Linked DNA regions of Homo sapiens. The protein of the gene in region 1 purifies or fractionates together with the protein of each later gene. This does not show direct contact. Each region holds a gene or a part of one and is shown in the gene's direction. Other genes may lie near its edges. The genes, in order: OR1N1 and PLBD1.

Region 1 (3,155 bases):
CCCTGGTTTTCATACCGTATCTTCCTCCAAGACATAGTGTAAACTTTTTCAATCACTTTGGTCTTTTGAACTTTAGCTTATTTATCTGAATCAAAGGGAGGAGTTGGACTAAGCAAAATTTTCTTAATCCTCACTGAGCATCAAAATACCTGAGAAGCCTTCAGTTTTAGTTTTTAAATACAGGTACCTAAATTGTATCCTAGAAATTTAAATTTGACAGGTCTGAGGTAGGGATTATTATTTTTATCTTTATTTATTTATTTATTTTAGACGGAGTCTTGCTCTATTGCCCAGGCTGGAGTGCAATGGCATGATCTCGGCTCACTGCAACCTCCAACTCCCAGGCTCAAGTGCTTCTCCGGCCTCAGCCTACCAAGTAGCTGGGATTACAGGCACATGCCACCACACCCGGCTAATTTTTGTATTTTTAATAGAGATGGGGTTTTGTCATGTTGGTCAGGCTGGTCTTGAACTACTGACCTCAGGTAGATCCGCCTGCCTCGGTCTCCCAAAGTGCTGGGATTACAGGCATGAGCCACTGTGCCCAGCCGGGATCAGGATTTTAAATAAGCATCTCACTTGATTATGATAAACTGGTCTACAGACCAATGCTTGAGACCTCTGGGCCAGGTGATCTTTCAGGTTCTATCTAGTTCTTAAATTTCGTTGTTCTTCTGTAAAACACACATATAAAAGATAGTAAAGGCAAGTGAGACTAAATACGTTAAACTAAGAATACTGAGGGATTAAATATAAATGTGGTCCTAGAAAGTTACTTTCTATCTATATTGACTGATGGTACAGTCTCTGGAAACCATTGCTGTGGGTTTGAATTCTGTCTCAAATATTTATGAGCTCTGGGTCCTTGTACAATTTACTTAAACATCCTTAGACTCAGTTTTCTTATATAAGGGTAAGAATAACAATCTCTGCATCCTAGTGTTGTTTAAGGATTAAAGGAAACAATCTTCATAAAGTACTTAGTAGAGTACCTGTCATATATGTGGCTAACATGTAATATGCGTTAGCTACAGGATGATGATGATGCCAATGACAAAAACTCAAATGCAGGGAGAAATGCAGGACTTCGTATTTTCTTTTTCAAAAGAAATAATGAAAAAATAAAGAGGCATGAGTCCTTCATATGCCCTTCACTCTAAAATGAATGAGGATGTGTCAAAATTAAGAATTTTGTGTGGGTTTTTTGGCTACCTCCCAAAAGAATGTAAAATTTAGCTGACCTCAGTCTACTCACATAGACAGCCTACTGCAAAAATGAAACTAACATGAGGCTATAGACTAGTCTAAGGCATGGTCATGCCAAGGGAGAATATGCCCTGACCTTATTGGAAGGGGACTCTATGTGTAAAAGATTAAATAGTGGTAAAGAGAGGAGAAAGGGGGAAAATGAGACTCTGATGAAGAGAGAAAAGAAGCAGGATCAGAATGAAGATAAAGTCAGGATTAGGAATATAATGAACTTAAAGGGAGATTTGGGAGTCAGCCCACACAGTTGTAGATGAAATCTAGCATTCTAACTGTCTTCCCTCAGCTCCAGATGCTGCAGAGTCATGGAAAACCAATCCAGCATTTCTGAATTTTTCCTCCGAGGAATATCAGCGCCTCCAGAGCAACAGCAGTCCCTCTTCGGAATTTTCCTGTGTATGTATCTTGTCACCTTGACTGGGAACCTGCTCATCATCCTGGCCATTGGCTCTGACCTGCACCTCCACACCCCCATGTACTTTTTCTTGGCCAACCTGTCTTTTGTTGACATGGGTTTAACGTCCTCCACAGTTACCAAGATGCTGGTGAATATACAGACTCGGCATCACACCATCTCCTATACGGGTTGCCTCACGCAAATGTATTTCTTTCTGATGTTTGGTGATCTAGACAGCTTCTTCCTGGCTGCCATGGCGTATGACCGCTATGTGGCCATTTGCCACCCCCTCTGCTACTCCACAGTCATGAGGCCCCAAGTCTGTGCCCTAATGCTTGCATTGTGCTGGGTCCTCACCAATATCGTTGCCCTGACTCACACGTTCCTCATGGCTCGGTTGTCCTTCTGTGTGACTGGGGAAATTGCTCACTTTTTCTGTGACATCACTCCTGTCCTGAAGCTGTCATGTTCTGACACCCACATCAACGAGATGATGGTTTTTGTCTTGGGAGGCACCGTACTCATCGTCCCCTTTTTATGCATTGTCACCTCCTACATCCACATTGTGCCAGCTATCCTGAGGGTCCGAACCCGTGGTGGGGTGGGCAAGGCCTTTTCCACCTGCAGTTCCCACCTCTGCGTTGTTTGTGTGTTCTATGGGACCCTCTTCAGTGCCTACCTGTGTCCTCCCTCCATTGCCTCTGAAGAGAAGGACATTGCAGCAGCTGCAATGTACACCATAGTGACTCCCATGTTGAACCCCTTTATCTATAGCCTAAGGAACAAGGACATGAAGGGGGCCCTAAAGAGGCTCTTCAGTCACAGGAGTATTGTTTCCTCTTAGATGTGGTGACAGCAACATTTAATGAAAAGACATAGGCTTGGAGTCAGACAAACGGGCTTCATTTTGGGGTCTACCACACACTAGCCATAAGATTGTAGTCTGGTTACTTAGCCTCTCTGAGCCTTGGTTTTCTCATTTATAAAATGGAGATAACAGTTTCTATCTAATAATGTAACTTGGAGGATTAACTGAAATAAACTATGAAATGCATTCAGTATAGTAGTGAATAACAGTAGGTGTTCAATAAGGGATAGCTATTATTATTACTATTAGTATTCTTCATTCCTCCCCCAACTCAGAAGTCAAAAAATCTTTTCTCTGAGATATATTTGTTCAATAAATATTTACTATCTATGGTGTGTTGGAAGTTATTGTAAGTGCTAGGGTTATGACACTGAGCAAGACAAAGTCCCTGCTTTCATGACACTTTCATTCTAGGTTATTAATTTGTCGATCATTAAAATTTTGGGGGCACTTGTTTTGTTTGTGGCATTAAGTGGGGAGTAAGACAAAAGAAATAAAGATGGAGGCTGCATTCCATGTGCTGCAGAATAGCTAAAGAGATCCCCATCAAAAGGTTCAAATTCAATGTTTAGGTTTCCATGCGGGTTGCCCACCCCACGGTTGGCTAATGTTTCACTAGGAAGG
Region 2 (3,829 bases), on another chromosome or scaffold:
TTGCGGTGAGCCGAGACCGTGCCATTGCATTCCAGCCTTGGCAACAAGAGCGAAACTCTGTCTCAAAACAAAAGAAAGTTGGGGATCCAGGTGGCCACGTAATCCATAAAGCATTGTGCTAGGCCCAAGGGAGTGGATACAATGAAATGTGAGACTCCACCTCTCATCTGCAAGGAGCTTGTAATCAAATTTTTAGGACCAAGCAGACACAAATGCATAATTAATGAGTAATCTAGATGAGGACTGACCTAACAGCATGGAACCAGAATGGGGCAAAGTTGACTTTCAGCTGATAGGGCTTTTGGCAAGAACTCTGATTTCAGCTGCCAGTGACAAATCGGTATGTTTCAACGGGATGAAGGAAAGGGATCATTCCAGATCTAAGCAAATCTCCGGCATTTTTCTGCATTTGTGGATTGTTGTTTTGAAGCTAGTTTTTAAAGCTGTATCCCTTTCTACTTATCTAGTGTGTCCTGCACTTCCTGACCCTGAGGCCCACCTCACATCCTCTCACTTGCCTTTTATTTCCACTTCCTGCAGGTGATCTGAGGTGCCTCATCTCAACCTCACTGTAGAAATCTCTTAATTTCCACCTCAGGGCGTCTCTGAAATCACAGCCACTTAGTCCTGGAGCACATGCAGACATGGAGTGAGGGAGTTAACCCTTCCTAGGGCAACGTTTGACCTTTGTAGTATGGGAGCAGGTAGCTGGGTCCTCCATCCCTGGGATGAAGATTTCCGAGGCTAGTCCCAGTGGGATCAACCCCTGTGTCCACAGTGGAAACCAGCTCAGAATGCACCCTTCAATCGGTGTTCCTCCCTTTCACTCTCCCAGCCCACCACTCCTGTTCTCTGGAAGTACTTGCCAAAATAATCCTCCTTCCAGCAGGCATCTTAGTCTCTGATATCTGGAGAGAGCCAAGGCTTAAACACCTACTTGCAATTTTGTTTACTGGAGATTGTTTAATTTACAAATCAGTTATTTCGTTAGTGACTCCGATGAAGAGTCAAAACAAATCCAAAAACCAGGTATCAATTTACTGAGAGACCTTTCAAAGAAGGCAAGTGCAATGCCAAGGTACACAGAGGTATACTGAGAGACTAGCCGAGCAGACATAAAAGAGAAAAGCAATTCAAGGACCAAAACCAGTGAATTTTTAGCTAAACCCAATATGAATAGATTGTTTTCATTTTAATTTTTTTCTATTTTCTCCAACATCTTTTGCTTGATCTCTTTCTCATTTCTTTCTCTTTTTTTCCCCTCTGACTTCTGAATATATTAAGTAAACATTGCATTGCTTGGGGTTGAAAACTACCTGCTCTTTCATAAATGAGGTGCTAGAAAAATTATTATAGAATCCAAATATGGGAGAGAATAGTTTAAGCTACTTATGAGTATTTTATACATTTTTTTTCCTAAGACAGGGTAGGAATTTTTTCAACTGAAAACAATGAACTCATAGAAAATATTAATTGGGCTGGGCGCAGTGGCTCATGCCTGTAATCCCAGCACTTTGGGAGGCCAAGGCAGGCAAATCACCTGAGGTCAAGAGTTCGAGACCAGCCTGATCAACATGGAGAAACCCTGTCTGTACTAAAAATACAAAATTAGCCAGGCGTGGCGGCGCATGCCTGTAATCCCAGCAACTTGGGAGGCTGAGGCAGGAGAATCGCTTGAACCCGGGAGGCGGAGGCTGTGGTGAGCCAAGATCGCACCATTGCACTCCAGCCTGGGCAATAAGAGCGAAAACTCTGTCTCAAAAAAAAAAAAAATTAAATAAATAAAATATTAATCAGAGTATACAAGTAAATATTAATAAAATAAATTTAATTTTGGTGTTTGGGCTTTTACAGAGAGAAATATAAAAATGATGGCACATTTTCCATCTTTATTTATAGAAAAAAATACTTTTTATAAATAAGATTCCCATTCATTCAACAGATATTTAATCAAGTGCATTGATTTTGAGGATATTGCTGTTAAAATGTTTGAATTCTGACTTTTCCTTTTCACAACTCTAAAGAAAATACCAACAAATAGCTCTTGCTCTTGGGGCTGGGTAGACTTAATCCAAGATTCCGAGCCATTTAGTAAGTTTCTCACCCAGGCTTGAAAACATAATTACTTGAGTTATTTCATACTAACTTCTGTGAATGAGTGCTCTGATGAGCTTCCTTTTCTGGGAGGCTCAGGTAGGAGGATTGCTTGAACCCAGGAATTCCACTCTGTAGTGAGCTGTGATTGTGCCACTGCACTCCAGCCTGAGCAACAGAGCGAGACCCCAGCTCAAAAATAAATAATAAATAAATAAATAAATGGCTTTCTTTTCATTTAGAGAACACACACAAACTAGATTCATCAAAGAAACATTATTTTGTCAGGTTTATAGAGTGTTAAGCAGAAACAGTCCGCGCTTTCACAGAGCTTGTATAAAACTAGGTTTGCATTAGAATTATGTACTATTTTTCTACCTTTTCACTATTACATTTTTCATACCAGCCACCTCCCATCATGAAGATGTTTTTAAAAAATGGAAAAGTATAATGGCTTAAACTATTACAGGATTTAAGAAAATCAGAAAATAGCATGAATACTGGGAAAACCAGGAAGAGTTGAAACTTAGAGAAAACATTGAGGAATGGAGGACCTCGGTTGGAGTGGAGTGAAAACTCTGATTTTGGCTTTATTCTCAAAGCACATGCTAAGCTGTTGGCAGGACATTTTTCTCACCAAAATCTCTTGGGGATTGAGTAAAGGTTTTTTCATTCATGGAGGTACACGAGTGTCAAAAAAGCACATATTTGCAGAAGTTTCTTTTTGTGGTCAGGAAATTAGGTAGGACCAGCAACAGTGAAAACATAGCTCTTGGTTTAGTACTCAGGTTGCCTTGAGCAAGCCCCAAATTACAGCAAAAAGGAGTTGATTGGAAAGGGAAGGGGAAGGCAGGCCTGGGGTGCTTACGATGAGAAATGCCAAGGTTTTGGAGAAGAAGAAAAAGCTAAAATCATGCTTTGTGGGTAGAAAGAAAAGAGAAGAGACACACCTTCCTTTTTTCTTTTATGGTTCCTGTTTATGACTCTGCTTTTTATTCCAGCAGCCACACTTCCTCATTTCCCTACAACGCTCCCTGGAGTCGAGGGTGGAAGGGAATGTGTGAGAAAAGCTGGGGATATATGGTCAAAAATGGATTTGGAAAACACATTTATTGCCTTTGGGTGGAGAAGGGAAGTTTCTGTGGGTGCTGCCTACAATTGTCAAATTGTGGCCAAATGGCTCCATTAACAATCAGACAATTATTTGTCACCCGCAGTTTATTGGCAAATTATTTGACACCTCCCTATTTCTTAATGCCATTACTTCCGATTAACGATTGTGAAGGCCTGCCATGATGGTCATTGTACTCAGAAGTCAATTGACTTAGGCCTACTCAGATCATTCCTTAAGCGTTTAATCAGGATTAGTTTCTAAGCCTGACTAAGCCCCAGCCTATCACCGAGCCCCGGGAGCACGGTGCCATGATGCTCTAGTATTAAGACTCTACTTTTAGTGCATATTTGATAGACAGTCTTTTTTTTTTTTTTTTTTGGCTACGTAGTATTTCATTGTGTATATGTACCACAATTTCTTTATCCAGTTTACCACTGATGGGCATTTAGGTTGATTCTGTGTCTTTGCTATTGTGAATAATGCTGCAATGAACATACGTATGCAAGTGTCTTTATGATAGAACAATTTATATTCCTTTGGGTATATGCCCAGTAATGGGATTACTGGGTTGAATGGTATTTCTGTTTTTAACTTTTATTTTAAGTTCAGGGATACATGTGC

Evidence for each region.
Region 2: the proteins of OR1N1 (region 1) and PLBD1 purify together in Homo sapiens (affinity purification with mass spectrometry; one large-scale study listed by BioGRID and IntAct). This does not show direct contact.

The regions. Positions count from the first base shown.
Region 1 is NC_000009.12:122,525,710-122,528,864, reverse strand, and holds OR1N1 (olfactory receptor 1N1), read left to right. Parts: upstream 1-1,571; coding exon 1,572-2,507; downstream 2,508-3,155. UniProt on the Homo sapiens protein: Odorant receptor.
Region 2 is NC_000012.12:14,557,807-14,561,635, reverse strand, and holds part of PLBD1 (phospholipase B-like 1 precursor), read left to right. Parts: intron 1-3,829. UniProt on the Homo sapiens protein: In view of the small size of the putative binding pocket, it has been proposed that it may act as an amidase or a peptidase.